Linked DNA regions of Homo sapiens: region 2 is linked to region 1. A link means that fine-mapping ties the variant in region 1 to the expression of a gene that starts in the linked region. Tissue or cell type: testis. Region 1 holds a variant in brackets; the other region holds the start of a gene. All regions are shown on one strand. Distances are from middle to middle.

Evidence for each region. PIP is the estimated chance that this variant, and not a neighbour inherited with it, causes the effect.
Region 2: ZBTB46 starts here. The variant in region 1 is the best candidate, but not a certain one, in a credible set for the expression of ZBTB46 in testis (GTEx, PIP 0.66).

What each region holds. Positions count from the first base shown.
Region 1 is chr20:63,802,633-63,818,462 of GRCh38, forward strand. All of the region lies in intron 1 of ZBTB46 (zinc finger and BTB domain containing 46), which reads right to left. ZBTB46-AS1 (ZBTB46 antisense RNA 1) reads left to right here and starts at 5,444. Exons shown (of 3, transcript NR_110081.1): 1 at 5,444-5,523. RefSeq lists enhancers at 1-53, 12,383-13,133, 13,134-13,884. The variant A/T (reference allele first, on the strand shown) is at 7,614.
Region 2 is chr20:63,823,863-63,839,692 of GRCh38, forward strand. It overlaps ZBTB46 (zinc finger and BTB domain containing 46), which reads right to left and starts at 7,402. Exons shown (of 5, transcript NM_001369741.1): 1 at 7,235-7,402. RefSeq lists enhancers at 5,146-5,837, 11,174-11,468 and silencers at 7,420-7,559, 11,174-11,468.

The sequences.
Region 1 (15,830 bases):
ACCGCGGTGGGCCGACAACCGAACCTCAGACCCCCAGCACCCTCCCAGGAACCGCCGCGGCCGACGACCGAACCTCAGGCCCCCAGCACCCTCCCAGGAACCGCGGTGGGCCGACAACCGAACCTCAGGCCCCCAGCACCCTCCCAGGAACCGCCGTGGCCGACGACCGAACCTCAGGCCCCCAGCACCCTCCCAGGAACCGCCGCGGCCGACGACCGAACCTCAGGCCCCCAGCACCCTCCCAGGAACCGCGGCGGGCTGATGCCCAAACCTCAGACCTCCGGCCTCCAGGACTGGAGGGAACAGATGTCTGTTGTTTACGACGTTCCCTTTGTGGCCCTTTGACATGGCAGCCCCAGGTCACTGACGCCCCGTTTCTACCACCAAAGAGCGCGATGCCACAGACGCCAACAGGAGGAAACACGTTTCTGGGCAGCTCTGCCCACTCTTGCGAAGAAACCCACCAACCCGGCTCCCCCAGGGCACCTCACCAGCAGGAACCAGGCGTGGGCACCATCCCCCAGGATGCCATCCAGGCAGGGACCAGTGTGGGCACCATCCCCCAGGGCGCCTCACCAGCAGGAACCAGGCACCTCCCCTCACACCAAGGCGTTCATGGTTTACCTTCTTCTGAAAAAATTAAGGTTAAGACATGAATACTGTGAAACTGTCGTACAAATTAAATTTCATATACATCATATTACCATTGTTCGTGGTCGCATTTCAAAATTTTTAAGTGAGCTCCTGACTAGAAAACACTCCAAGACATGTTAGCAGAGTCGTCTTTCGACAGCGAGACCGGTGGTACTATCCACATCATCTCCAGTGAGCAAGTGGGTGCTGGCGATGAGGACTTTAGGTTTTCCACATGGCAGCCCCCATGTGGCCATCTGAAGATGCAAAGCCATGTCTGCCGGCCCCGGGCTGCCCAGGCCCCGGGCTGCCCAGGTCTCTGTCGGAGGCCCTGCCAGCCCCGCCCCTCCCTGCCCACTGGCCCCTTTCAGTTCCTTCATCTCCAGCCCGGCTCTGACGCCCAGGCCGCCTCCTCCGCCTTCCCGAACCTGGCTACCGTCACTTCCTTCTTTTTGTTTTTGTAATGGGGTCTCACTCTGTCCCCCAGGCTGGAGTGCAGTGGCGCAATCTCGGCTCACTGCAGCCTCAACCTCCCAGGCTCAAGGCATCCTCCCACATCAGCCTCCTGAGCAGCTGGGACCACAGGGGCACGCCACCACACGGGCTAATTTTTTTGTTTTGTAGAGACGGGGTTCTGTCGTGTTGCCCAGGTTGGTCTTGAATTCCTAAACGAACCTGCCGCCCTGGCTTCTCAAAGCGCTGGGATGATAGGCGTGAGCCACTGCACCGACATAACGTCACTTCCTTCTGTCGGGCGTCCCCAGCCAGAGCCCAGCACGCTTCCCCTTTCCAAACACCTCTCACTGCCCTGCGCTGTCCCATCTCAGCCCCAGCCACCAGGGTCTCGGTGGGCTGTGGGGTCCCTGAATGGAGGGGCTTCCACTCCCACCTCAGCAGCTCCAGGCCTCAGCATCCCTCCAGCTCCAGCCAGGTGCCCACCAGTCACACGCAGGGGAAGCCTGGAGCAGTGCCTGGCTCGGGCCATGTGTGAGGGTGGCAGGGGTGCCTCCAGATGGGCACAAGGTGCTCTGGGCACCCAGGAGGGGGCCGGGGCAGCTGAGCTCCTAGTCTGTCATTTGGGTTATAGATGACACAGTGGAACAGGTCAGATCTGTAAAGGCGAATCCTGCCATGAATCACAACAGCAGTCCTGAGCCCTCTCAGCCAATGGACACAGCCTCCCCCTCCTCCAGGAAGCCCTCCCGGGCGTCACTGTTCTTACACTGACAGCACACATGCCACCTCGCTGCCTGACACTGCCCTGCCCTCCTCTCAGCCCAGGGACCACATCTCAATGCTGGACAGGCCCAACACATACACTTGGGGTCAACAAAACTACAGTACCAGGCCGGGCACGGTGGCTCACGCCTGTAATCCCAGCACTTTGGGAGGCCAAGGCAGGTGGATCACCAGGTCAAGAGATCGAGACCAGCCTGGCCAACATGGTGAAACCCCGTCTCTACCAAAATTAAAAAAATTAGCCAGGCGTGGTGGGGGGCGCCTGTAGTCCCAGCTACTCGGGAGGCTGAGGCAGGAGAATCGCTATAACCTGGGAGGCGGAGGTTGCAGTGAGCTGAGTTGGCACCACTGCACTCCAGCCTGGGCAACATAGTGAGACTCCGTCTCAAAAAAACAACAACAAAAAAAACCTACATGACTTTTTTTTTTTTTTCTCAGAAGGAGTCTCGCTCTGTTGCCAGGTTGGAGTGCAGTGACACGATCTCAGCTCACTGCAACCTCCACCTCCCGGGTTCAATTGATTCTCCTGCCTCAGCCTCCTGAGTAGCTGACATTACAGGCTCACACCACCATGCCTGGCTAATTTTTGTATTTTTAGTAGAGACGGGGTTTCACCACGTTGGCCAGGATGGTCTCGATCTCTTGACCTCGTGATCCGCCCACCTCGGCCTCCCAAAGTGCTGGGATTACAGGCATGAGCCACCACGCCCGACCTACAGTACCTTTTGAAAATTAAATCTGTAATACTGATTTACAGTATTTCAAAAATGTCTCATACTAAGTGCTGATAGAAGGTAAAATGAAACAGCAGCCGGGCAGTGTGGTACACACCTCTAATCGCAGCACGTTGAGAGGCTGAGGCGGCAGAATCACTTGAGCCCAGGAGTTGCAGGCTGCAGTCAGTGAGCTCCGATTGCACCACTGTGCTCTAGCTGGAGTGACAGAGCAAGACCCCCATCTCTAAAGGAAAAAAAAAGACACAGGGAGGAGAGAAGGTCATGTGACCACAGGCAGAAACTGGAGTGACAAAGTCACAAGCCAAAGGATGCCTGGAGCCACCAGGAGCTGGAAGAGGCAGGAAGGACCCTGCCTGGAGTCTCCAGAGGGAGCATGGCCCTGAGACACCCTGAGTTCCAGCGCTGGACTCTGGAACTGAGAGGAGACACCTCTGCTGCCGCGAGCTGCCCAGCAGGTGGTACTTTCACAGCAGCCCCAGGAAACTAATACACAAAGCCATGCATCAGCTTTTTTTTTTTTTTCCTTTTTTTTGAGACGGAGTCTCGCTCTGTCGCCCAGGCTGGAGGGCAGTGGCACGATCTCGGCTCACTGAAGCCTTCGGCTCACTGCAACCTCCGCCTCCTGGGTTCAAGTGATTCTCGTGCCTCGGCCTCCCCAGTAGCTGGGATTATAGGTGTGTGCCACCACACCCGGATAATTTTTTTGTATTTTTAGTACAGACAGGGTTTCACCATGTTGGCCAGGTTGGTCTCGAACTCCTGACCTCAGGTGCTCTACCCGCCTCCGCCTCCCAAAGTGCTGGGATTACACGCATGAGCCACCATGCCCGGCCCCAACTTTTAAAAATATTATAATTTTCTCAGAAAGCTAATCAGCTGGCTGGGAAAGGTGGCTCACGCCTGTAATCCCAGCATTTTGGGAGGCTGAGACGAGCGGATCACCTGAGGTCAGGAGTTCGAGACCAACCTGGCCAACATAGTGAAACCCCGTCTCTACTAAAAGTTAAAAAAAAAAATTAGCCTGGCATGGTGACGGGTGCCTGTAATCCCAGCTACTCGGGAGGCTGATGCAGGAAAATTGCTTGAACCCGAGAGGCAGAGGTTGCAGTGAGCCGAGAACATATCACTGCACTCCAGCCCAGGCAACAACAGTGAAACTCCATCTCAAAAAAAAAAAAAAAAGAAAGAAAAGAAAGCTAATCAGCTTAACAAGGCAAGAAAACTATTTGTGTACATTTTAAATCTGAGATACTGCTATGGCTAACTCTGACCTGAAATGGTAACTTCAAAAAAAATAGAACCTAAATAAGAAGGTTGTAATACCTGCTTAAAATAAAGGCAACACTATGCTCTCAAGGAATATGATGGAATCTTTCTCTTTTTTTGAGATGGAATCTGGCTCTGTCACCCAGGCTGGAGTGCAACGGTGCGACCTTGGCTCACTAAAACCTCCACCTCCCACGTTCAAGCGATTCTCCTGCCTCAGCCTCCCATGTAGCTGGGACTACAGGCGCCCACCACCACGCCCAGCTAATTGTTTTGTTTTGGTTTTTTTTTTTGAGATGGAGTCTCGCTCTGTCGGCCAGGATGGAGTGCAGTGGCGCCATCTCGGCTCACTGCAAGCTCCGCCTCCCAGGTTCACGCCATTCTCCTGCCTCAGCCTCCTGAGTAGCTGGGACTACCAGCGCCCGCCACCACACCCGGCTAATTTTTTGTATTTTTAGTAGAGACGGGGTTTCACCGTGTTAGCCAGGATAGTCGCGATCTCCTGACCTCATGATGCACCTGCCTCGGCCTCCCAAAGTGCTGGGATTACAGGCGTGAGCCACCACGCCTGGCCAGGATTGGTGTTAATTCTTAAAATGTTTGATAGAATTCAACAGTGAAGTGATATATACAATCATATACATATATAGAGAGAGACAGAGATGGACTTTTCTTTTGTTGGAAGTTTATTGACTATTGATTCAATTTCTTTATTGAAATTGACTTTTCTTTTTGGAAGCTAAAAAGTACAATAACTGTAGTGAAAGTTTCTGAACTTTTCTTTCATTGGAAGTTTTTTGACTACTGATTCTTTATTTGTTATAGGTCTATTCAGATTTTCTGTTTCTTCTTGAGTCAGTTTGGTCTCGCTCTGTCACCCAGGCTGGAGTGCAGTGGCGCCATCTTGGCTCACTGCAACTTCTACCTCCCGAGTTCGAGTGATTCTCCCACCTCAGCCTCCCCAGTATCTCGGACTACAGGCGCACGCCAGCATACCTGGCTAATTTTTGCATTTTTAGTAGGAACGGGGTTTCACCATGTTGGCCAGGCTGGTCTCGAACTCCTGGCCTCAAGCAATCTGCCCGCCTCGGCCTCCCAAAGTGTTGGGACTACAGGTGTGAGCCACCGCGCCCGGCCTTCAGCTACTCCATTTTTTAACATTTTGCCGCATTTGTTTACATCAAGCAATATGATAGAATCCCTAACCAGTTACTTTTTGCTTAAAAGCTGTACTAGGCCAAAACAAGCGAAGCACCCGTCTGTGTGAGGCAGCGGGTCTGGCTTACAGGCGGCGCCTCAGGGCTCGCTCCCCCTCCGAGCGGGTCTCACTCCCAGAGCGGGGCTCGCCCGGTGTCTGGCCTCCGAGGCCGTGTGCCCAAGTCCCCACCTTGTGCGGCACAGGCCCTTCCCACAGGGGACACTCACGGAAGCTGAACGGACCTTCCCACAGGAGACACTCACGGAAGCTGAACGGACCTTCCCACAGGGGACACTCACGGAAGCTGAACGGACCTTCCCACAGGGGACACTCACGGAAGCTGAACGGACCTTCCCACAGGGGACACTCACGGAAGCTGAACGGACCGACGGAGGTGGCGTGGATGAGCAGCAGCCGCCTGAGCAGTGAGGAAACCCCGCGGACAGCGCGGTAAGGACCCCACCCAGATTACTGGATTTCACCACCGGCCGCCTTCGATGGAGGAGTCCTCAGTCTCCACATCCGCACGGCACAGACGGAGGGGGGGCCCATGGGGCCCCAGCGATGAACCTGTCAGGGGTCCCCTGTACCCTGTAGGCCAGTCAAGCCATCCTTCCCAGCCCTTGCCCCGGGGGCTGAGCGCAGGGGAGGGCCCGGAAGGCAGACGCCACGGAGCCCGGGGCTTCAGGGGGGCGTGGGGCGGAAGCGGGGCCAGGGCGGAGGTCACGGACAGGGTCATCCGGACCCACAAGGAGTCTCAGCCCCGGGCCCGGCGGGAGGGAAGGGGGAAGCCAGGCTCTTCCTCCTAGGGCAGGGCCTGGGCTCCGGGGCAGTGTGACCTCCCGCCCCTAAGCGAGTCCTGCCTCCCCATGAGACCTGAGCTCCTCCAGCGTGGGTGGGAGGCGGACAGAGCCTCCCCCAGAGAAGGCCCTCCTCGGTCCAGCGCTCGGCCAGGACAGGCGCCAAGGCCGCCTTAAGAAATAAAACCAGCAGGCGCGGTGGCTCACGCCTGTAATCCCAGCACTTTGGGAGGCCGAGGCGGGCGGATGGTGAGGTCAGGAGATCAAGACCATCCTGGCTAACATGGTGAAACCCCGTCTCTACTAAAAAATACAAAAAAAAATTAGCCGGGCGTGGTGGGGGCGCCTGCAGTCCCAGCTACTCGGGAGGCTGAGGCAGGAGAATGGCGGGAACCCGGGGGGCGGAGCTTGCGGTGAGCCGAGATGGCGCCACTGCACTCCAGCCTGGGCGGCAGAGCGAGACTCCGCTTCAAAAAAAAAAAAAAAAAAAAAAAGAAAAAGAAAAAAAAAAAAGAAAGAAAACTCCATGATTCATGAGGTAAGACCTGGGAGCTGGCGGCTCGGTGCTCCGGTGCTGCAGAGGCACTCAAGGGGCTCTCCACGTTCGCCTTCCACGTTCCCCTTCGCAGGGACCGCAGCGCCTGGGGCACTTCGCCATGGGCTTGGCCGAAGTGGGCACTAAAGGTGCAGACTCGGTGGAGCCAAGGGGGGCAAGGTCAGCAGCCCTGGGGGCGCAGCCCTGGGGGCCCCGCCGTGGGCCACGCCCAGCGCGTCCAGTCCTCATGGCCGCGTCTATTCCAGGAATGGGGTCCTGGGGTTCGGCACAGGCCTGCTGGGGTGGTGGCCCCACATCTTGCCTGTGTCCCCCCATATTATGCCCAAGGGAGCAACAAAGGCCACCCCTGGGTCCAGGCCTCAGGAGCTCACAGGAGCCCTGAGCCCAGAAGACAGCAGCGCCCTCACGCGGTCCTCAGCAAACCTGCCAGAGCCCAGCAGGTGGAGAGGACTCCGGGAGACAGCAGGAGCTCCGCGACCTCCCTTCCTCTCCCCTCTTCTCCCTTACGAAGTTAGCCGTGTGGTGGCCAGTGTGGCTTAACTCAATGATACAATTTTAAAGATTTCTGGAAAGGACTTAAAAGACACGTGCTTAACTCTGAGAAAAGATTTCAAGGCCAGGCCAGAATGGTGGCTCATGCCTGAAATCCCAACGCTGAGGGAAGCCGGGGCGAGCAGATGGCTTGAGCCCAAAAGTTCAAGACCAGCCTGGGCAACATGGTGAGACCCCATCTCTACAAAAAATAGAAAAAATTAGCCGGGCATGGTGGTGCACACCTGTAGTCCCCGCGACTCTGGAGGATGAAGTGGGAGGATCCCTTGAGTCGGGAGGTCGAGGTTGGAGTGAGCCAAGATGGCACCACTGTACTCCGGCATGGGTGACACAGCAAGGCCCTCTCTCAAAAAAAAAAAAAGAAAAGAAAACTCTAAATACATGGAACTGGCAAACATTAACGTAATGTCAATTACAAAGGTGGCCGTGACACAGGAGGCCCAGAGTGGGGCGGCCCTTGAAGCAGCCTGCAGCGTGGGGATGAGGCCTACAGATGCCTCTGCCTCTTTGACTAATTCCACTTCTGAGACTCTGCCCCAAGGAAATAACCCAAAAAGCTAATTGGTTCCAAGATGTTCCAAGCACTGCTATGGCTAACAGTGACAAACAGAAAAAGACCCAAACACTCGACA[A/T]TTCGAAGATGGCCCAGAAAACCGTCAAGTATTAAAACTGAGCAAAACCCAATTCCAGGAACATTAAAAATGCCAGTCACGTGGATGCTTAGAAGTTTATCAGAAATTAACGGGAAGAAATGAGAACAGAAAGCCCAGCTGGTCGTGTCTGCACAAGCTCACACACACCGACCACACTCAGGATAGGCACCAAAACCCCCCTTCCCCTCGCAAACCAAGGTCCTTATTCATAAAACACAAATGTAATCCTAGCACTTTGGGAGGCTGAGACAGGTGGATCATATGAGATCAGGAGTTTGAGACCGTCCTGGCCTACATAACGAAACTCTGTCTTTACTAAAAATATTAAAATTAGCTGGGCGTGGTGGCACGCACCTATAATCCCAGCTACTAGGGAGGCAGAGGCAGGAGAATCGTTTGAACATGGGAGGCAGAGGTTACAGTGAGCCAAAATTGTGCCACTGCACTCCAGTCTGGGCAACAGAGTGAGACTCTGTCTCAAAAAACAAAAAAATAAATAAAAATAAAACACAAACGCGAGAACGTGCCCACCAGCACAGATGCAGGGTAGGATGACGCCACAGGAAATCAGCACCCAGGAGGTGAACAGAGCGCGAACATGAGAGCAATCTACGTTTCTCTTTCCTCACTCCTACGAGGAGCTCCAGCAGCAGAGCCGGAGAGCACCAGCTGGCGTCCAGGCTCCACTCTCTTTCCTCACTCCTACGAGGAGCTCCAGCGGCAGAGCCGGAGAACACTGGAGAGCACCAGCCGGCGTCCGTGTTCCACTCTCTTTGACTTTTCACAAACCCAACAGGCAGGCGAAGAGTCTGCCTCTCTGGGTCCCAGAACCCCACAGGATGGGCATGAGCCCCACCCCGCCCAGCCCACAGAGGCGAGTCTGGGTCCCAGAACCCCACAGAATGGGCATGAGCCCCACCCCGCCCAGCCCACAGGGGCGAGTCTGGGTCCCAGAACCCCACAGGATGGGCATGAGCCCCCCTAGGGGCAAGAGACGACAACAGGTGGACAAGATGCGAGCCACCAGCCCACTAGGACCTCGGAGCTGCCATGGGGTGGGTCTCCCTGAAGAAGAGTCAAGCAGCCTTCCTCTCCCCAGCCCCACCCCACCTCTCATACAGAAGACACTACAGCCCCAGGCCTCCCAGCTTCTGACTTCCAGGAGCAGAAGTAAGTTCTTCCACAGGGCAGGAGGGGCCCTGGAAGGATACGACTGTCACCTCCTCTGAAAGTATTTCCAGGAAGCCCACTGTGCTCATAGCCATAGGCAACGCAGAGAGCAGGAAGATCTCGGGGGTGCAGAGAGGGGGTGGCCCATAGGTGACGCAGACAACTGACCCTGACCCCTGGGCCCAGCAGAGATCTGCACGTGTGAGGGTCAGCTCTGAGCTGGGCGACGGGCCAGCCGGCTCACCTTGCAGCCAGGTGAGCTCTACCCCGCTGGGAAGAGAGCTGCTGCTGTCTGACTCCCTGCCACATGAGGACTCAGGACTCACTGGGCAGGTGAGCCATGGTGCAGGAACAAACCCCTTTCATCCAACTCTGCCATAAGACAAAATGTTAGAATCACAGTCCCTGTCACTAAGTAGCACATCTATTTCACCAACTCCCACTTTTCTGCCAGGTCTGGCTCATACATCGTTCAGACCAAGTACTTGCCTGGGAAAAAAAACTAAAGTAAAAATAGCTCTTAGACTCCAAACGTGGAAGCATTAAAATATTCAAAAGAACTGACCCTGCAGATATTGAAACAAGGCTTTAGTGCTGACCCACCAAAGTGGCGGCGATCTTTTCGGAACAAAACTCTCACTAATAGGAAAACTCCAAATTCAGGCAAAATTTGCATCAACTTTTCCTACATAAAAAAAAGAGAAGCAACGGTAAACTACATTTGCATTTTTAGTAAAAACTAAATGAAAATCAACTTGAAATAAGAAAATTAACATTAAAATTTTTCACAAGGCCAGGCAAGGAGGCTCAGGCCTGTGATCCCAGCACTTTGGGAGGCTGAGGCGGGCAGATCACGAGGTCAGGAGATCAAGACCATCCTGGCTAACATAGTGAAACCCCGTCTCTACTAAAAATACAAAAAATTAGCCGGGCAATGTGGTGTGCACCTGTAATCCCAGCACTTTGGGAGGCGGAGGCGGGCGAATCACGAGGTCAGGAGTTCGAGACCAGCCTGGCCAACATGGTAAAACCCCGTCTCTACTAAAATACAAAAAATTAGCCAGGCAATGTGGTGCGCGCCTATAATCCCAGTGCTTTGGGAGGTGGAGGCGGGCGAATCACAAGGTCAGGAGTTCAAGACCAGCCTGGTCAACATGTGGAAACCCCGTCCCTAGTAAAAGAAATACAAAAAATTAGCTGGGTGTGGTGGCAGGCGCCTGTAATCCCAACTACTCGGGAGGCTGAGGCGGGAGAATCACTTGAACCCGGGAGGTGGGGGTTGCCATGAGCCAAGACCACCCCACTGCACTCCAGCCTGGTGACAGAGCCAGACTCCATCTCAAAACAAAAAACAAAACAAAACAAAACAAAAACTACGGCTGGGCGTGGTGGCTAATGCCTGTAATCCCAATACTTTGAGAGGCCAAGGCAGGTGGATCATGAGGTCAAGACATTGACAGCATCCCGACCAACATGGTGAAACCCCGTCTTTACTAAAAATAGAGAAAAATATTAGCTGGGTGTGATGGCGCGTGCCTGTAGTCCCAGCTACTTGGAAGGCTGAGGCAGCAGAATTGCTTGAACACGGAAGGCGGAGGTTGCAGTGAGCCGAGATCGCACCACTATACTCCAGCCTGGTGAGAGTGAGACTCCGTCTCAAAAAAACAAAACAAAACAAAAACAGGCATCAAAATATGAAACAACCCGTGTTTTAAAATACATTAAGTTGGGGCCAGGCACGGTGGCTCACACCTGTAATCCCAGCACTTTGGGAGGCTGAGGCGGGTGGATCATCTGAGGTCAGGAGTTCGAGACCAGCCTGGCCAACATGGTGAAACCTCGTCTCTACTAAAAATACAAAAATTAGCCGGGTGTGGTGGAGCGCGCCTGTAATCCCAGCTATTCGGGAGGCTGAGGCAGGAGAATCACTTGAACCCAGGAGGCAGAGGTTATAGTGAGCTGAGACTGTGCCACTATACTCCAGCCTGGAGACAGAGCAAGACTCCATCTCAAAAAAAAAAAATAAATAAATAAATAAAATACATTAAGTTGGAAATTCCAATGTAAGCATTGTGGCTACACACCAGAGTAACTGCTCCCCTGCCACTGCCCTGCGCGGGCGAGTCCCAGCCCTCCCGCCTCTACCTGGTTCTACTGACGGCTCAGGCAGGAGTTCAAGGTCACAAGGATGCACCCAGCCAGACCTTCAGGTAGGAAGTGTCACAGAACCAAAACTGATCCTTCAGCAAATAAGTAGCATGAAACAGAGAGAAGAAACGCAACTTCAGGGACATCACCACCCACAAGCAGCACATGGCCCTCATCCCAACTCTGATTCAAGTAAAGCCACAGTGAAAATGTGCAGGCCACAGTCAAGAACGCTGAGCCCAGCCCAGCATCGCGACGCTGAGGAAGTGTTGCGGGGTGCCCGGCTGCGTGTGAGCCACACACAACGAAGCACCGAGGGTAAAACTGAGATTTGCTTTAAAACACTTGAGAGAAAAAACAGTGGGAAGGGCCGGGCGCGGTGGCTCACGCCTGTAATCCCAGCACTTTGGGAGACCGAGGCGGGTGGATCACAAGGTCAGGAGATCAAAACCATCCTGGCTAACATCGTGAAACCCTGTCTCTATTAAAAATACAAAAATTAGCCGGGCATGGCAGTGGGCGCCTGTAGTCCCAACTACTAGGGAGGCTGAGGCAGGAGAATGGCATGAACCCGGGAGGCAGAGCTTGCAGTGAGCCGAGATCACGCCACTGCACTCCAGCCTGGGCAACAAAGCAAGACTCCGTCTCAAAAAAAAAAAAAAAAGAAAAGAAAAAAAGAAAGGAAAAAGAAAAAACAGTGGGAGAGAGTGGGAGAGATGAGTAAGACAAGAGCAGAGCACTGGGGGTTCCCGCAGCCAGGCGACGTGGACGTTCTCTCTAATTTTGTGTATGTTTGAAAAGTTCCAAAATAAGTTTTTAAAAATATAATTAGGTTTTAAAATAATAATATAACTTTTACAAAACTGGGAAAATATACAATCCAGCGGTGCAAATGCGGTGAGAGAGAATCTCATCTGGAAACCCACAGGCAGCCCCACCCCTCAACAGGAGGCCCAAGACCTGCCTCTGCAGGGGGAGAGAACCCCAAGACCTGCCTCCTCCCACCCCCAGGCAAGGGTCCTCATTTGGGGTTGACCTCCCAGAGGAGTGCAGCAAGCCTGGGCCTCAGGAGTCTGACTGTGGGTGACAAGCCACAGACACAGCCATGTCCACATCGCACCATGGCCACCGCAGGCAACTTAGAATGCTCGATACTCACCCTACTTCGGAATTAGGAATATCAGATGCACCATTCACAATGCTATGTGCTAAATTAAAGTTCCACATGTTACTACCTCACAAATCAAACTTTCCTGAATTTTAGCAATGATATTTCAGTAGTTGCTACCCTTCATTTTCCAGGGATCTTACTGGATGCACTAAAAATGCTATTGTGAGCTGATCATGGTCTCACATGCCTGGGGTCCCAGCTACTCAGGAAGCTGAGGCACAAGGATCGCTTGAGCCCAGGACGTCGAGGCTGCAGTGAGCTGAGATTGCGCCACTACACTCCAGCCTGGATGACAGAGCAAGACCCTGTCTCAAAATAAACAAACAAAACATGCTATTCTGAAAAGGGGCCACAGCTCACCAGCTGCTGAGAAGACACAAAAGGCCGAGAGCCCAAGTCTGAGCTGAAGGCACAGGTGCAGTGGGCCCAGGTGCAGTGGGCGCAGGTGCAGTGGGCACGAGTGCAAGTGCAGTGAGTGCAATGGGTGCAGGTGCAGTGGGTGCAGGTGGGCACCGGTGCAGTGAGTGCAGGTGCAGTGGGCAAAGGTGCAGTGGGTGCAGATGGGCACAGGTGCAGGTGGGCATAGGTGCAGTAGGTGCAGGTGCAGTGGGTACAGGTGGGCACAGGTGCAGTGAGTGCAGGTGCAGTGGGCAAAGGTGCAGTGGGTGCAGGTGGGCACAGGTGCAGGTGAGCACAGGTGCAGTGGGTACAGGTGGGCATAGGTGCAGTGAGTGCAGGTGGGCACAGGTGCAGTGAGTGCAGGTGCAGGTGGGCACAGGTCCAGTGGGTGCAGGTGCAGTGGGTGCAGATGGGCACAGGTGCAGGTGAGCACAGGTGCAGTGGGTGCAGGTGGGCACAGGTGCAGAAGGTGCAGGTGCAGTGGGTACAGGTGGGCATAGGTGCAGTGAGTGCAGGTGGGCATAGGTGCAGTGAGTGCAGGTGCAGGTGGGCGCAGGTCGAGTGGGTGCAGGTGCAGTAGGTGCAGGTGAGCACAGGTGCAGTGGGTACAGGTGGGCACAAGTGCAGAAGGTGCAGGTGCAGTGGGTACAGATGGGCATAGGTGCAGTGAGTGCAGGTGAGCACAGGTGCAGTGAGTGCAGGTGCAGGTGGGCGCAGGTCCAGTGGGTGCAGGTGCAGTGGGCACAGGTACAGTGGACACAGGTGGGCACAGGTGCAGTGGGTGCAGGTACAGTGGGCACAGGTGCAGTGGGTGCAGGTACAGTGGGCGCAGGTGCAGTGGGCACAGGTGGGCACAGGTGCAGTGGGCGCAGGTGGGCACAGGTGCGGTGGGTGCAGGTGCGGTGGGCGCAGGTGCAGTGGGCACAGGTGGGCACAGGTGCAGTGGGCGCAGGTGCAGTGGGCGCAGGTGGGCGCAGGTGCAGTGGGTGCAGGTGCAGTGGGTGCAGGTGCGGTGGGCACAGATGCAGTGGGCACAGGTGCAGTGAGCAAGGCAAAGGGGGTGCCCAGAGGAGGGCCCGAGTCCTGCTTCGGATTGGGAGGCACAAGCAGCCGCAACACTCAGCTGCCCCTCTTGGCTCCATCTCTGCTCACCCTCAACATGACTCCCTCCCCACCCACCCCGTGTCTCTCCTCACAGGCTCACATCACCCAAGATACTCAAAGCATCTCCCCCATCTGCATAACCCAGCAAAGCAAGGACTCCATGACCTGCTGTGTACCCAGGCCAGGAACCTGACCTGCCACAGGCCCAGGGCTGCGTGCACACTGGCTGAATGCATTAGTTAATATTTTGGTGACGCTGGTTACTTGCCACCTCTGCTGTAAATAACAGCAGCGTCAAGGATACAGTGGCCACGAGAGGTAGCAGCTGCTGATGTGTGGAGAAGCCTCCATAGAGAAATACGTGTGAAAGATGCATCAAGAAAACCCAAGCTGTGATGCTGTTAAGGGCTGAAATGTGTCTGCTGAAGTCCTAAACCTGCAAACGTGACCTTATTTGGAAATAGGGTCTTTGCAAATATAATCAAGTTAAGATGAGGTCATAGTGGATTAGGGCGGGCCCTCACCCAATAGGACCAGCTTCCTTAAAAGAAAAGGAAAAGGCCAGGCCTGGCACGGTGGCTCACGCCTGTAATCCCAGCACTTTGGAAGGCTGAGGCGGGCAGATCATCTGAGGTCAGGAGTTCGAGACCAGCCTGACCAACATGGAGAAACCCCATCTCTACTAAAAATACGAAACTAGCCGGGCATGGTGGCGCATGCCTGTAATCCCAGCTACTCAGGAAGGCTGAGGCAGGAGAATCGCTTGAACCCAGGAGGCAGAGGTTGCGTTGAGCCAAGATCGCGCCACTGCAGTCCAGCCTGGGCAACAAGAGCGAAACTCAGTCTCAAAAAAAAAAAGAAAAGAAAAGAAAAGGAAAGGGCCAGATGTGGTGGCTCATGCCTGTAATCCCAACTCTTGGGGAGGCAGAGGCAGGAGGATCGCTTGAGCCCAGCATGGGCCACATAGGGAGACCCTGTCCCTACAAAAAGTAAAAAAATTAGCCAGGTATGATGGTGCATGCTTGTAGTCCCAGCTACTTGGGAGGCTGAGGCAAGAGGATCCTTGAGTCTGGGAGAAGGAGGCTACAGTGAGCTGTGCTTGTGCCACTGTACTCCAGCCTGGCCCACAGAGTGAGATCCTGTCTCAAGAAAAAAAAATAGAAAAAGAAAAAGAGGCCGGGTGCAGTGGCTCAGGCTTGTAATCCCAGCTCTTCAGGAGGCCAAGGTGGGCGGATCACCTGAGGTCAGGAGTTCGAGACCAGCCTGGGCAACATGGTGAAACCCTGTACCTACCAAAAATACAAAAAATTAGTCAGGCGTGGTGGCACACGCCTGTAATCCCAGCTACTTGGAAGGCTGAGGCAGGAGAATCGCTTAAACCTGGGAGGTGGAGGCTGCAGTGAGCTGAAATGGTGCCACTACACTCCAGCCTGGGCAGCAGAGTGAGACTCTGTCTCAAAAAAAAAAAAAAAAGGAAGAAGAAGAAAGAAGAGGAAAAAACCTGGACACCCGCAGGGGAGACTGTGTGAAGACAGAGGCAGAGGCTGGAGCGAGGCGTCTATAAGCCAAGAGGCACCAGGGACTGTGGTCAACACCTGCAGCTGAAGAGGCAGGAGGACCCTCCCCTGGAGCCTTGGGAGGAAGAGTGGCCCCGTCCACCCCGATGCTGGGTGTCAGCCTCCAGCCCTGTGACAGAATAAGGCTCTACCGTTTTCAGCCACTCAGGCCATGGTCCCATGTAACGCAGCCCCAGGAACTCGCCCAAACAGCAAGCTCACCTACAGAGACTGCACGGCACCACGCTCTGAGTGGTGGCACTGGGGGTCTTCACCCAGGACTCACATGGTCCCATCCGCCAGGGACCCTGCCTTTTGAGTCTGTAGTTTTGAGGTACACTGCAAGGGGCCCTTTGTAGAGCTGGACAAGGGCGCTGGGGTGAGAGCCACTGGCGCCATCCACGCTGCCCCTGCCAGGTGAGGCATGCCTTGACCACGGTCCTGCTGGAAAGCACGTGGCAAAGCCACCCAGAAACCAGATGCAAAGCCCAGAAGCCCTCGGTGCAGCCCCTGCATCCAAGTCACGGTCCCCTCCAGCTGGGCTGCGTAAGGAGGTCCAACCCTGGGTCTTCGTGAGGAGGAGAGCAGCGCAGTGCCGCCCCGCAGTCAGTTCTGCAGAGGGAGGGTGGGCCAGGCCAGTGCGGACCC
Region 2 (15,830 bases), 21 kb after region 1:
TGTGTGTGTGTGTGTGTGTGTGTGTGTTCTTTGGGACTGCTCCGTTTTCTGTTTGTAAAAGGAAATGTAAACCGTTGAATGGGCTCCCCACAGGACTAACGTAAACGACCAGATTACACTTGAGAAGTGGAGATTTTGAGTGCAGAGAGGAGGCTGTAGGCGAATCAAGGCTTCTTTAGAGACCAGAGGCTCAGGGCAGGGTCGCTGGCCAAAGTCCTCTGTTTCCTTGAATGGGTAACAAGCAGACACGTCCCACCTAAGCATCAGGGCCACCTTCGAGGTTGAGCAGCCGGCCTCCCTGAAGCATGGGAAATTCCGAGTCTTGTGGGTCTGCAGATTCCACACTGAAATGGGAGGAGGAAGAAATGGGGCTGGACCTGGACAAACAAGTGCCTTCTTCAGCCAGTCTGTCCTCCACCCCTAAAGGAGCTGAATAATCTCTACTTCTTTCGAAAATACCTAAGCTGGCTTTGAACTTGCCAAATAAAAGGATACTGCCATTCACCAGATTCAATAATTTAAATGGCATGGAAAGAGAACACCCATTTTATTCAAATAGGGCCACACCAAGACAAGAAAGACTACAGACCATGTTGTCTTGAAAGCTAATTTAGCAAATATCAGAAAAACTCACTTGGCGGTTGCCACAAAAGCCCTGAACCACGCCCTTTTTCCTGAAAGCTCAGGGTCTGCAGGACAACTCAGAGGTTCTAATCCCACCCAAAATTTCACGTGGCCAAGGAACACTTACCGCCTTCCCCCACCCCCGTTCTTCTGGGTGCTCTGAGAGGTGATGTTTCCATCACTGCACCCCCATCTCACCGTCATCAAACCCTCCCTCCCCCATCTTCCCATCACTGCACCCCCATCTCACCGTCATCAAACCCTCCCTCCCCCATCTTCCCATCACTGCACCCCCATCTCACCGTCATCAAACCCTCCCTCCCCCATCTTCCCATCACTGCACCCCCGTCTCACCGTCATCAAACCCTCCCTCCCCCATCTTCCCATCACTGCACCCCCGTCTCACCGTCATCAAACCCTCCCTCCCCCATCTTCCCATCACTGCACCCCCGTCTCACCGTCATCAAACCCTCCCTCCCCCATCTTCCCATCACTGCACCCCCGTCTCACCGTCATCAAACCCTCCCTCCCCCATCTTCCCATCACTGCACCCCCGTCTCACCGTCATCAAACCCTCCCTCCCCCATCTTCCCATCACTGCACCCCCATCTCACCATCATCAAACCCTTCCTGGCTGGGTGCAGTAGCTCATGCCTGTAATCCCAGCACTTTGGGAGACCGAGGCAGGCGGATCACTTGAGGTCAGGAGTTCAAGACCAGCCTGGCCAACATGATGAAACCCCATCTCTACTAAAAATACAAAAATTAGCCGGGCGTGGTGGCGGATGCCCATAATCCCAGCTTCTAGGGAGGCCAAGGCAGGAGATTCGCTTGAACCCGGGAGGCAGAGGTTGTAATGAGCCGAGATCTCGTCACTGCACTCCAGCCTGGGGGACAGAACAAGACTCCGTCTCAAAAAAAAAAAAAAAAACCCTCCCTCCCGCCCACCATCTCACTACCATCAAACCCCTCCCTCCCGGCTTCCCAGGGCCAGTTGTCCCCATGCTGCACAAACAGCCCTGGGCACTTTGTGTCAACAACTCTGTTTTCTGGTTCTATCCCTGCACTTGCTGTTCCTCCAACCAGAACAGCCTTGCTCCACTTCTCAGCCTCTGCAAAGCGGCTGGCTATGGCCAATGAGTGGATTATGAGTGTGTTTCTAGAAAGCCTGTGTGTCTGGATGTGCCCCTCCACAGCCCAGAAATCAACAACCAGGCCTTCGAGTTTCTTCATAACTCAGAAGCTTCTAATCTCTGTGACTTTTTGTGGGATTCTTTCAGGGAAGTCAGTTGGGAAAGCGGCGAATCAACACTGCGACAGGTAATGCTTAGCTTGGGCCGACTTCTCGTTCTTCTGCCCAGTTAAGAGCCATAGTTTTGCTCCCCATGCCCCAGCAGATAAGCAAAGCCTCTGTCCATCCGGCGGGTGACCCACACTAAGAAGACGACTTGCCCAGAGTAACGTGGGCCACGCGGTCCAGGTGTGTCCACCTCTCACAAAGGCAGCTGTCAACACCGGGAGTTCCTAAGCCCTCTGCACGTAGCCCAAGGCACAGCAGTGCCCCTCTCCACATCTCCACAGAGGAGCACCGACGCAGGCCTCGTGTGCAGCGATATGCCAGCGAATGGGAAGGCTTTCTGTGCAAGAGGCTTCATTTTCTTCATTTTCTTCAGAGTGGTTGGAAGAGATGATGTGATGCACTTTTGTAAACGAAAATGTCTTACAAACAAAGTATCTGTGTGTCCCATGCAAGCAGCAATGCTGCCCGACTTTCAGATAAATGAAGACATTTTTAGAAACTGATTGTTCACACACATATGTGGCTCTTTTCCATTTTGGGGGAAACTGAGAAGGACTGAGTCGCTAGTAAGTCAGAGATGCTCAAAGAGAAACCAAGAGGAGCCCGGGGGCGACACCTGGGCCGACAATGACAGGCCCAGAGAAGAAATGCTTTGGCTGGGCACGGTGGCTCATGCCTGTAATCCCAGCACTTTGGGAGGCCGAGGCGGGTGAATCATGAGGTCAGGAGATCGAGACCATCCTGGCTAACATGGTGAAACCCCATCTCTACTTAAAAAAAAAAAAAAAATTAGCCGGGCATGTTGGCAGACGCCTGTAGTCCCAGCTACTCCGGAGGCTGAGGCAGGAGAATGGGGTGAACCCGGAAGGTGGAGCTTGCAGTGAGCCGACATCGCGCCGCTGCACTCCAGCCTGCGCGACAGAGCGAGACTCCCTCTCAAAAAAAGAAATGCTTCACGGATGACTTTTCCAAAAAGACAGCGAGTGTCCTTGGGAAGGCATTATGTGTGCTGAACCAAGTCTTCAGAAGGTACAACGTGAAACTCAACTGCTCCTCATGCCTACCCCCACAGCTGACCAGCTCCCAAAAGCTGCCTCCTACGTACAGTGGCCCTGCCCTCCGGCCAGCAATCCACTCTCCGGGAAGCAGGGTTTGGAATATGACTCGCTCCACCAGGACCGGATGACTGCCAGGTCTGGAACCGTGCGGGTGGATCTCCGAGTGGACTCCCTTCCCTCGAGTCACCTTTGGGCTCCGGTGCCACTCCCCACAGCAGTCCCCACAGCAGTCCACACAGCAGTCCAGGCACCCTCCTCCCAGCCTTGGGCCGTTTCTTGCCAGCCTCTGCCAGCCACCACACTGGGTCACATCAGTGGTTTCTGCGTGCCCCCAACCCACCTCCGTGGGAACTTTGTCACCAACCTGGCCCAAAGTCTGGTCCACAGCAGGCCCTCAGTAACACCAAAGAGCTGTCATGAATAGGAAACCCCGAGTGTCTCCGGTAAGACGCAAAAGCCCATCTGTCAAAACACAAAAGATGGCCGGGCGCGGTGGCTCACGCCTGTAATCCCAGCACTTTGGGAGGCCGAGGCGGGTGGATCATGAGGTCAGGAGATCGAGACCATCCTGGCTAACAAGGTGAAACCCCGTCTCTACTAAAAATACAAAAAAATTAGCCGGGCGCGGTGGCGGGCGCCTGTAGTCCCAGCTACTCGGGAGGCTGAGGCAGGAGAATGGCGTGAACCCGGGAAGCGGAGCTTGCAGTGAGCCGAGATTGCGCCACTGCAGTCCGCAGTCCGGCCTGGGCGACAGAGCGAGACTCCGTCTCAAAAAAAAAAAAACAAAAAAAAAAAACCACAAAAGATCTGCAAATGCTTTTGAAAAATACACTAATGTTTCTCAACTTTCTATTGTAAAATAGCTATGGTAGCAAATTTTTAATCCAGATAATGATGTTTAGAAGCATTTAATAATTTTAAATTGTAAATTAGAGTAAAACGGCACTGCTGATACTCAACTATGCAACAGAACCATTCAACAGAACACTTTGCATAAATCATACTTAGGTCAAATTTCACTGGTTTCATTTGTTTTTATGCTTTAACAGGACAATGTTTTATTTGTTTATTTATTACTTAATTTTATTGTTTTAGAGACAAGGCCTCGCTCTGTTGCCCAGGCTGGAGTCCAGTGGCACAATCATAGTTCATTACAGCCTCAAACTCCTGGCCTCAAGCGGCCCGCCCGCCTCAGCCTCCCAAAGCACTGGGATTACAGGCGTGAGCCACCACGCCCAGCCTCAGAACCACTTTTAGGTTGTTAAAAAACATCCTTTCTCTTTTCCATCTATAAACAACACCATTGGGGCCCTTTGTCATCACCAGCAAACCAGAACACCAAGCCTGGGTCTGTATATGTGAGGCACTCAAAGGGTCTAAGTGATAACAGAAAAGCAGGAAAATCCCTCCCATGGACCCCATGGCCTAAGACCCCAGCACTCCGCACAAGTTCACAGCTACGCCGCAGCCGCGGCAGACGGCAAGAGGACCACAATCAGGATAAGGCGGCGGCCTCTCAAAGCCCTGAATAAGTCTGTGGCCTTAATAGAGATTTTGAATCAAACATTTATTCTTAGGAGTCAGGCCATTCAAGCAAACTTAGCAGCAACAAGATGAATTTTTCCCCCAGGGGAGGGGACAGATTCAAAGGGTATTTTTTTTTTTAAATCTGCTAGAAAAACCAGTAGAGGGAAGTATCAACCATCACTCAAGGTCACTCATGAGACTTCCAGGTAAAACATGCAAAGCCCAGGGAGAAGCAGCAGCCTGAGTTTTTACAAGAACGGTACTTAGGCAAGAACACGAAGTCCCCAGGACAGGGAACCTACCACGGCAGACGCCGTGACACTGGGTGTGCGGATGGGAAGGGGCAAGGACTTCTAGACCTTTCCTCTCACTTTAACTCAGCAGTGGAGCGGGTGCCTGGGCACCAGTCACGGCAGTGGGAGGAACCGGCTCCAGTTCTCAGGCTGTGGAGCCGTCTAGGCACCGTGCACGAAGTGGGTCTCCAGGGCTCTGAGAGGCCGGGCTAAGACCTCTGATGGAGAACAGAGCACTGGAGCTGCACCGCTGTCCCAGAAACACAGGCCACAGGGACAGAGTGGCCCAATTTCCCTTAATTTAAAAACCCCACGTCAGGGCAGTGTTGGAAAGTTCACTCTGCTAAAATTTAATTCAGTGTTTGTAAATAGTACATCGTCTGACAATAACAACTGTGTACCCCCCACGGCATTTCCTCTAAATCCTTGGAGCAGTTTCACCGTTCACAGGGTTTACCTCCTGACCTCTGTGACCACCAGGGGCTGGGGAGGGACGGAGGACGCAGGGCACTGGGTCAGCCTGGCCCTGGTGGAACTGACCTGGGGGCCCTTAGGTAACAGTCCACCCAACCCGAACATCCGAAACAGGAGTGGAACTCAGGTCTGAGCACAGAACGACTCATCCTCACACAAAACAGCTAAACCCGAACAGAAATCACCTCATCTAAGCAAAAGAAAACTCTCACGTTCAGGATAATGCTGTCAGTGAGAGGCTTAATTAAATGCTTGTCCCCAGGCTGGCCTGAAGGCAAGGCGGAATTTCGGATTTCTAAACACCTCAAAGTGAGTGCATTCCACGCCCCAAGGAGAAATCTGACAGTAACTCCCCAGCCCTCTTCCTTCAGTTACGGAGAAGATGTCTAGCTTTTTAGGGGACACAGTAAGTTCCCACCTAAATTTGCAGTAACTTGTGCCCAAGTACTCCCCTCACTCCTCAGTCCTTTCTGCAGTGGTAACCAGGCTGAGGTGCCCAAAAGTGCCAGTTGGAAACACGTAAAACACACCGAGCAGAAAGGTTCTACTCTGATAAATACTGTCGCTTGCTTCATTATTCATGTGAAAAACCCCTTCTATACATTTCCTTTTGATGAACAAACTATTTTCCACTCTTGTAGAGTGAAATAGTGCCTTGCAGAGGCAGCGTGAGTGCCAGCAGCAGAGATGTATCCAGTCTGTTACCCAAACGGGAAGTTAGCTCTGATAATAGAGCCAATATGAAAGATTCTACAATCGATACAATTAAAATGCCCGTGAGTTCTCGGCGCACAGGTGTCTGCGCCCAGGCCGCGCGCTAAACACGTTTCTAATTAGCATTTCTTTAAACAATGCTGATCACAATCTTGCCACCGTAATCCACTCCAAATGCATCGTTGAGATTGCAGCACGGAAAGCGAGAGAGGAAATTCGCTGCGAATCTCAAACTTTCTTTTGTTTATATTTCTTCGCTGTCAGAAAATATCCGTTCTTCGCCCCATCTGGTCTGTACCCTGGCTCCTCGGTCCAGCCCTATTGTGTGTGCTTCGTTAAACCTACAAACAGTGAATCTGTCAGCGGGGCCAGGGGAACCCCAACTAGCAGGAGCCCTCCCTCTGGCGCAGAGAATTCCCCGTTTGCCTTAGGGATTGAGTTGTCAGACACCGGCTCGCGCTCCCCCGCGAAACTGACATGTCTATTTACAGAGAAACAAAGACGCGGCTCGCAGCGGACCCCGCTTCCTCCGCGCGCCCCGTCCGCCCCGCGCGCCCCGAGCCCTCCGCGCCCCGAGCCGCCCCGCCCCGAGGCCCCTGCGCCCCGGTTCGGCCGGCGATTAAGATGGAGACCAGGCCGGCGCCCGGCGTCCGGGGAGACAATGACCCCCCGGCCTCAGGGCGCCGGGACCCGCCCGCGCCCACCTCCCGCAGTTCCGACTCTTGGCAAACTCGGCGCGGGCGGCTCCGGGTGCGGCTGGGCTGTGCCGGCGGGGGGCGCGGGCGGGGGGCGCCAAGACGCCCCCGGGCTGCCTCGGGGCCAGGCGTTGACGCAGCAGAAATTACCAGCTGGAAAATTCCCCTCTCGGAGGTGCCGGGGAGGGAGCGCGGCGGCGGCGGGAGGTGCCGGGGGCCGAGGGGCCGGGGCAGCCCAGCCGCCTCCGCGCTCAGCCCCGCGGGGAACCCGCGCCGCCCCCGCGCGCCCCGCCCCGCGCCGCCGGCCTGGGGGGCACCCGCGGGGGCCGGGCCGGGGTCTCCGCCGCCGCCCCCGGAGCCCGCGCCGCAGCTGGGAGCGCCGATGGCCCCCGGGAGGGCGCCCCCGCGGGGCGGGGCGTGGCGGGGCGGCCGGCGGCGGGGGCGCGCCCGGGCTCGCAGCGGCCCCGGCTCCCGGCTCCCGGCTCCGGGCCCGGCCCCCGCCGCGATGCGCCCGCCCGGCCGCGCGGACAATGAGCCGGCGCCGCTTACCTGTGACCCCATGGGGCGCGGGCGAGGGCGGGCGCCGCGGCCGCCGGGCCGGCGCCGGTGATCGCCGCCGCCGCCGGGAGGGCGCTGCGTCCGGGCGGGTCCGAGCTGCGCGCTCGCCGGGGCTGCTCGGTCCGTCCGTCCGTCCGTCGGTCCGTCAGGCCGGCGCGCGCCCCCGCGCCCGCTCCAACCCCGCGGCCCCCGCCGCCCGCGCGCGCGCGCCCCGCCCGCGGACCCTGACCCCGCCCCCCGGCGCGCGCCCGGCCGCCGCTGATTGGCCCGCGCCGCGCCCCGGCCGCGGCCACCGCCCCGGGCCCCGCCCACGCCGGCCCGGCCGCCGGCCCCGCCCCTCGCTCGGCTCCCGGCGCCGCGCCGCGGGGTCGCAGGGGGCCGCGCCGGGGGTCCGTTCTCCCCCCCGCGGGCAGCCGGACAGCGGAAGTGCGGGCTGGAGCTCGCTGGGCATTGTGGGAAGCCCCCTCCCCTGGGCTGGCGGGGGGCTGGGGCGGCGCGGCGCGGGGGTCCCCCTGGCCCCCGCTGCGCCCTTGCCCCGCGAGCGCGGAGCAGCCTGGAAACACCCCACGGGAGCGGCGACCCCGGCGAGGGCACCCGCTCCCTTCCCGGGCCGCGCACCGGGCGCTGCCCACGCGCAGGTTCCTCGGGGGCGCGCGGGTGCCCAGGTCACCGGCCGTCCCCGCGCCTGACGCGCGGTTGCACTGCGCGCGTCTCGCAAACTTGGCGACTCCCCCAGCCCGGCCGGGCATCAACGCGGGCCGCTCGCGGTGCGGAAAAGGCGCCCCCAAGGAAGGCCGCCCGGGGTGCGGGGTCTGGAAGGGCCTGGGCACCGCGCGCGCCTACCCTCGGGGGCCTCGGCGCACCCGGAGATCGGCGCACCTCGGGCGCAGGCCTCGTGGGGGTGCCCGCCAGTGGGGCTCGCTTTTGGCTGACTAGGGGCACCGGCGGCCGCGCGTGGGTCCCTCCCGTCGTGTTGTCTGCGGGGGACGAATGGCTCCGGGAGGGGGCGGGAACCAGCGGCCCGGGCCTCGCCCCAGCCCGTGTGCAGCCCCGATCCGAACGGCCTGGGACGCGTCTCCACCACTCGGCGCCCGGACTCTGCGCGTCGCTTCTCGCCTCCGCCGTCCTCAGCCCTCGGGCGGGTAGAGTGGGAAGCGCGGCCCCGCATTCCTGGCCGGCCTGCGCAGGGGTAAAGGCCACCTCGCTTCCTCTCCCCGGGCGCGGCGGGAAGGGAGGTGAGCCTGTGGCCGGCAGCCGCGCGAGGGAGTCGAGCCCGGCCCGGCCAACCAATGGGGAGGCGCCCGGGCCGTCCAGCCTGCCTCCCTGCGGGCCCAGCGCAGCGGATTCCTCGGGAGGTGGGAGGCGGCGGCCCTATGGGTGCTTTCAAATCTGGATGTGTGAGGCGCATTCAGGAGCGGCAGTGGGAGGCGGCTGAGGGCTCTCCATGAGTGAGCAAAGGCGAAGCGAGGTGTGGCTGCCGGGACCAACGCCTGGGACACTCCCTTACTGCCGTCGCGGGCGCCTGGAAATGGCTGTGCGGACACCCCGTTCCCATCCCCTCGCCAAGGTCGCCGGGATGGCACTGCGGCCCAGGAAGCCCCGTCGCCGGCCTACCTCGCGCGGCACCCTCTCGGTGGCACTGCCTGCTCTGGTCTGAAACTGTAGCCCCAGCCTCACCGACCTTCGGGAAGTGGGGGCTGAGCACAACCACCCTGAGAAGAGGCGGCTTCCAGGAGGGTCTGGCGGGTCACGTGCATCCCCCTTGGAGAAAACAGCACTGCCTGCAGGAGCCCCCACCTGCCCACCCAGAGCCCAGTTGTACCCCACGGAGGAAAGGAGGCCTGGGGAGACAGGAGAGCTCGGGCCCACCGAGCCAAAGCAAGGAGGACCAGAGCCCTGATGCCTGCCCCAAGGGCCTCCCGCAGAGCCTGCCCATGCTCTCTTGCGCAAAAGAGAACCCCAGTCTCTCCCAAGATGTCTGGACCTCCCTAGACAGCCTCCAAGGAGAGCAGTGTTGATGGTTTGCCATGTCCGTTGTCCATGCAGGGATGGAGAGCAGCAGCAGCTGCCTGGCGGAACACACAGTGGCACTCAGTCATCGCTTAGGAGGCCTGCCCATAAGAACCAAACCTTGATCTCACCACGACCCAGGCCAACCCCACCTGCCAGGTTAGGGCTGCCTGTCTTGGTAGAAACTTGCTGAGGGCCGGGCGCGGTGTCTCACGCCTGTAATCCCAGCACTTTGGGAGGCCGAGGCAGGCGGATCACGAGGTCAGGAGATCGAGACCATCCTGGCTAACACGGTGAAACCCCGTCTCTACTAAAAATACAAAAAATTAGCCAGGCGTGGTGGCAGGTGCCTGTAGTCCCAGCTACTCGGGAGGCTGAGGCAGGAGAATGGCGTCAACCCGGGAGGTGGAGCTTGCAGTGAGCCAAGTTCGTGCCGCTGCACTCCAGCCTGGGCGACAGAGCAAGACTCTGTCTCAAAAAAGAAAAAAAAAGAAACGTGCTGAGTTCTAGAATGAACGGGGCGGATGAGGCTCTGGGCCCCCTCTCACCTGGGAGCCCCACTCCTCCCCGCTTCCCCCTCGGCAACACTGCCAGTGACGGGACAGAGACTCCTGACTTTTCTGCTCCAAGAACCAACAGAAGGTCAAGCAGCCTGGAGACGAAGACAGTATGTCAAAAAGGAAGAACCAAGACCGGTCTCAGAGACAGCGCCCTGATTAAGTCCTACAGACCGTTATTCCAAGAGCTGATAAACCCCATTACTATTTAAAAGAAAAACAAACAAAAACCAGCAGCAGCAGCTGCAGCCTCTCAGCCGAACTGGGAGGACGAGGAGGGTGGAGTAGTTGGACTCCTACAGCCACGTGGAGTGTCTGCTCCGACGGGCATGCTGGCCCCGTGGCCCAGGAACCTCAGGTTTGTTGGAGCCCAGCATCTACTGAGCTGCTGCTGGGATTAGACATGAGACGGGGGGATGCCAGGCTGGGCCGCGGTGCCCCCTCTTCCTAGGGCCCCGGGACACTTGTGCAGGTGACGCACACCAGGCCTGGGGGCCACAGATGCAAGGAGGGATCTGCCGCCTGACAGCCGGCTGGGAGGCAGCTCTGGGAACAGAGAATGTGAAGTGTGGCCTCAGCAGCATTGGGATCAGGGCTGGGAGGCCAGCACATGGGTGTCTGGGAGGGTCCAGAGGGTGGGGCCCCTGAGGGTGACATGATGAACTGGACATGGTCCCTGACCTCGCCAAGTGGGTGAACAAGACAGGTGAACAAAAGGTCAGGTCTCTGTAGGGCACACTTGTCCACGCTGCATTACGTGGTCATTCCTGAAAGTCACCCCCAGCCATCTGGGTGAGCACGTTGGGAGCCTGTCCAAGGGACCCTGAGGCCTATGAGGGATGAGCGGCAGCAGGCCAGGAGTTCTGGAGGACGGGGGGCTCAGGGCAAGGTGCAGAGGCTGGGCAGCCCCACGGATGTACCTGCTGAGGGACGTGCCCCCCACAAACCCCTGGGAAAACTCAACCAGAGACACAAATGGAGAGCCATCTGGCTGGCAGGGCCCCCCGAGGGTCCTGGCACAGCCTCGCGCTTATGGCCTCTCCGCAGACCTGTGTTCACAGACTCCCTGCACCACTTACCCTGCCAGCCGGCCACCTGCCCTCCACCCTCACTGTGTGGCTTCTAGGGGATGGGGATCTGGGAGGGGACCCAGCCCCATTCCAGGTGCTCTGACACCACCAAGAGAGTAGGGATCTGCCTCTCATCCTCAGGAAGGATGGCCTGGGAGGAGCTTTGGGAAAGAAAATTCCCGAGGAACAAGATACCCCTTCCTGTCTGTGTCCCCACCCCCCCCCAAGCAGCTCCCCAACCTCGCCAGGGCCTTTACTGCCACCCCCTCTTCTCCCAAGGAGGCATTTCCTTGTCCACCCCCAGCTGGGATTTCTGTGGTTGTCTTTGTCTCAGTCACTGGTCAGGGAACCTGCCTGTTTATTCACCAGCCAGTGGTGTTGCTCAGTCGTCCCCATGGCAACAGCCCTGGGAGTCCTGCCCCCTCCCAGGGAACTGCCCAGAACCTGTCCCTGCCCTCTCCAGGCCTCTGCTGGGAGCCCAGACAGAGGGAGAGGCAGAGGGCAGGGCGGGGAGAGAGGCCCGCCACCAGCCTGAGGATGCTGGGGCTGTCCAGGGAGCCGCCCACCACACGTCATCCTGGGTCCTGCGGGTGGACTGGAGGCCGGCCGTGGGCTGCAGGAGAGCCCCACCCACGGGCTGGGGGAGGTGGCCTTGTCGAGGCTGGATAGAGGTGGGCCTCCTCTCGGGCTTGGCTTGGCCAGGTCCAGTGCCAGCTGGCCCTGCCCTCCCACCCAGGCCTCCCCAGGACCACCCTCCAGAGCTGCTCTGGGGCCAGGGGCTACCTGCCAACCCCACGGCTGCCCCACCCCAACTGTCCTCCGGGCCTGCGCCCCTGCCAAGCCCCAACTGCCGCTCCAGCTGCCACAGCCAACTGTCGACCGGTCTCCATTCCAAGCGCCTGCTCACCCCCAATCGTCCTTCCAAAATGCTGCTGCCAACTGCCAGCCCCCTCCCTTCCTGAGCCCTGGCTCCCACCACCACTCCAGGCCACCACACCAGGGATCTGCATTCCAGACCTTCCCTGGGACAGAGGCCAGGCCACACCTGCCGTGTCCCTAATGGGATGGGATGGGGCGGGGGAGGCACTGCACTGAAGGTCTGAGACCTGAGGCCCCAGCAGACAGAAGGCAAGGGGCAGGGAGAGCGCGGGCAGGGCAGGGGAGAGGGCAGGGGCAGGGAGAGCGCGGGCAGGGCAGGGGAGAGGGCAGGGGCAGGGAGAGCGCGGGCAGGGCAGGGGAGAGGGCAGGGGCAGGGAGAGCGCGGGCAGGGCAGGGGAGAGGGCAGGGGCAGGGAGAGCGTGGGCAGGGCAGGGGCAGGGGAGAGCGCGGGCAGGGCAGGGGAGAGGGCAGGGGCAGGGAGAGCGCGGGCAGGGCAGGGGCAGGGGAGAAGGCAGGGGCAGGGAGAGCGCAGGCAGGGCAGGGGAGAGGGCAGGGGCAGGGAGAGCGCGGGCAGGGCAGGGGAGAGGGCAGGGGCAGGGAGAGCGTGGGCAGGGCAGGGGCAGGGGAGAGCGTGGGCAGGGCAGGGGCAGGGAGAGGGCAGGGGCAGGGAGAGCGCGGGCAGGGCAGGGGCAGGGGAGAAGGCAGGGGCAGGGAGAGCGCAGGCAGGGCAGGGGAGAGGGCAGGGGAGAGGGCAGGGGCAGGGAGAGCGAGGGCAGGGGAGGGGGCAGGGAGAGCGCGGGCAGAGCAGGGGCAGGGAGAGCGCGGGCAGGGCAGGGGAGCGGGCAGGGGCAGGGAGAGCGCGGGCAGGGCAGGGGCAGGGAGAGTGCGGGCAGGGCAGGGAGAGCGCGGGCAGGGCAGGGGCAGGGGCAGGGGAGAAGGCAGGGCAGCCCATCCTCAGTGCCAGGGGCCACGTCAGGCCCAGCGCAGGGGTGGGAAGGCAACCAGAGCGCAGCTGGAGCAGGCCCTGGGAGCTGCAGGGCGGAGCTGGACCTTCCCTCAGAGGGTCTGTGAACAGCTTGGCCTAACCACAGACCCCGGGAGGGTCCTCCCAGCCATGTTGGGGGGAACGGGCCCCTCCCTACCAGCCTTGCACAGCTCAGGGTGGAACCAGCTCCCAGGCCTCAGCTGTCCCAGGCCATCCTGGACTCCCTCCTGCTTCACCACCTGGCACCCGGGGCCGGCCTGAGTCCCTTTAAGTTCCAACGTGTGGCTTCTCAGTCCCAGCCCTGGCCTTGCTGCCCCTTCCCTCCTTGGAGCTTTCTCTCTGCATTCATCCCAGTGGTCCCTGATCCCCACCTCCAACATAGGACCCCCCTCCATATCCCCCAGCCCGCTAGACCGTATCCCTCAAACACAGCGGGTGCCTGCAAGTTGGCTCACCAGGCCTAGGGGAGGCACGGCTGCCCTTGCGGGTCAGACCTGGGGCTGTAATTCCATCCCAGGCTCTGGACCAGCCGGTCAGCACCAGGAGGTGATGGGGGCCGGGGCCTCAGTCCCGGCTGAAGGGACACAGCTGCTCCCCAGGGGCCCCTGGCCTCTGAGGGCTCGCGTTGCAGAGGCGGGTGATGGCTCTGCAGATAGCCACTGCAGGTGAAATGGACACCTGGCTCTCCCTGGTGTCCCCTCCAGGAGCTGTCACTGGGCAGTCCGCCTTCCAGGATGGGACATAGTGGAGCAGGCACGGGGGGCCATGTCAGCCTGTCAGTCGGGCTGGCCCTGGAGGAAGGTTTGCACCTATGGTGTACCAGGAATCTCCCTACTTGGGGAACAGTGAGGGGAAGGACTCTCCAGGGTCACCTGGTCCCACCTCCGGTGCTGGGGCCTGGGAAGGAGAGAGAAGGGAGGTGGCTGTGGCCCGTCCCCTTCCACCAGAGGGGGGCTGCTGGGGTTCCCTTGGTGGATATGGAGAGGCCCCAGCCCTGCACAAGGCCAGCCTGTTGCCTCAGCCTCATTCACTCACTCACTCACTTGCAGGGTAGCATTCACGGATCATGGCACCTACCGCGTGCCAGGACGTGCTAGGTCTGGAGAGCCAGAAAAAACCCCTTGTATTGCAAGAGTGGAGAGTCGGTGACAGGTCAGCAAATTCATAAACGAGCTCTTCTGAGATAAAAAGGAACTGGGAATGGGCCCCTTGGGGACATGGCTGGTGCTGGGGCAGAGCAGGAAAAGGCAAGCTGAGCTCCTGGCCATGGTGGGATGACAGGGGGCAGGAGGGCCAGAGAGGAGAACAGCAGAATCATATAGTGCTGGCTTATGACCCCAAGCTGGAGCGCGTGCTGATATAAAAAATAAGAACAATTAAATGCAAGAAAGACACCAACCTCCCCTACAAAAGAATTCCCAGTAATACCTGTAGGTTCCGAGAGCAGAGATTACCCCTATGCACACACCATGAGTGAGGACTGGGTCTAGGGACTCCTTTCCAAAGAGCGGAGTCAAGACAGGCAAAGAGGAACTTGGCCGAGGAGGCGACTGGCAGGCACCACCTTGGCCAGGTGACCAGGTGAGCGTCGCCAGGTGATCGCACGGATGCCCCACAGCTCTGATAAGAGGTGACTCAAAGAGCACCCCACCTCTGTGAAATCCTTCCCAAACCCAAAACCTCAGTCTACTGCTGAGAAAGTACATCAGACAAACCCAAACTGAGGGGCTTTCTTTTGTTGTGGTTGCTTTTGTTTTTGAGACGGAGTCTCGCTCTGTCGCCCAGGCTGGAGTGCAGTGGCAAGATCTCGGCTCACTGCAACCTCCACCTCCTGGGTTCAAGTGATTCTCCTGCCTCAGCCTCCCAAGTAGCTGGGATTACAGTTACCTGCCACCACACCTGGCTGTTTTTTGTATTTTTAGTAGAAACGGATTTTTAGTAACAAGACCATGTTGGCCAGGCCGTTTTTGAACTCCTGACCTCAAGTGATCTGCCCGCCTCGGCCTCCCAAAGTGCTGGGATTACAGGCATGAGCCACTGTGCCTGGACACAAACTGAGGGACTTTCTACAAAAACACCTTGTCGGTGATCCTCAAAGGTCACCAAGAACAAGGAAATCTGAGAAACTGTCAGACAGGAGAGCCCGAGGAGACGGGACAGCTCTAAACATTGTGGCACCTGATAGGGCCCTGGAGCCGAAGAAGGCCATCAATGGCAGGACTGGTAGACTTCAAATAAAGTCCGTTCTGCGGGGGAGATAAACGGACCCCAACGTGGGCTTCCTAAGGCAACCCAGCAACACAGGATGGCGACGTCAGGGAAGACAGAGGCTTCGTGACAGGTGCATAGGACTCTGTGCTTTGCAGTGTCACACATTCTACTGGCCAGGCTGGAGTGCAGTGGCACGATCTCGATTCACTGCAACCTCCGCCTCCCGGGTTCAAGCGATTCTCCTGCCTCAGCCTCCTGAGTAGCTGGGATTACAGGCGCCCGCCACCACGCCCAGCTAATTTTTGTATTTTTAGTAGAGACGAGGTTTCACCATCTTGGCCGTGCTGGTCCTGAACTCCTGACCTCTTGATCCACCCGCCTTGGCCTCCCAAAATGCTGGGATTACAGGTGTGAGCCGCTGTGCTCGGCCAATTTTTTTATTTTTAGTAGACACAGGGTTTCACCATGTTGGCCAGGTTGGTCTCAAACTCCTGACCTCAAGTGATCCACCACCTCGGCCTCCCACAGTGCTGGCATGACAGGTGTGACCCACCGCACCCCTCCTGCAATGTCGCCCATTTTCTGAAATCTAAAATTATTCCAAAATAAAGTTTGTTTTTTAAAAGGGGAAAATGCAAAACCAAACAATCAAAGAAAACCACCTTCTTTTGACCCTGGCGTTGGGAGTTAAGCAGCCTCTCCAGGCCTGTCTCAGGCAAGATGCTCATTTTTGGTTTTAGAATTCGGGGGTTCAGGGTGCTCCTGGCTCTGCCCAGCTTGGAAGCACACACAGGCCACAGGGACCACAGAACCTCCAAGCTGAGTCAGGGTACGCCCCGTGGAAGGACGGTTGGTCCCCGCGTTCACACCTGCGT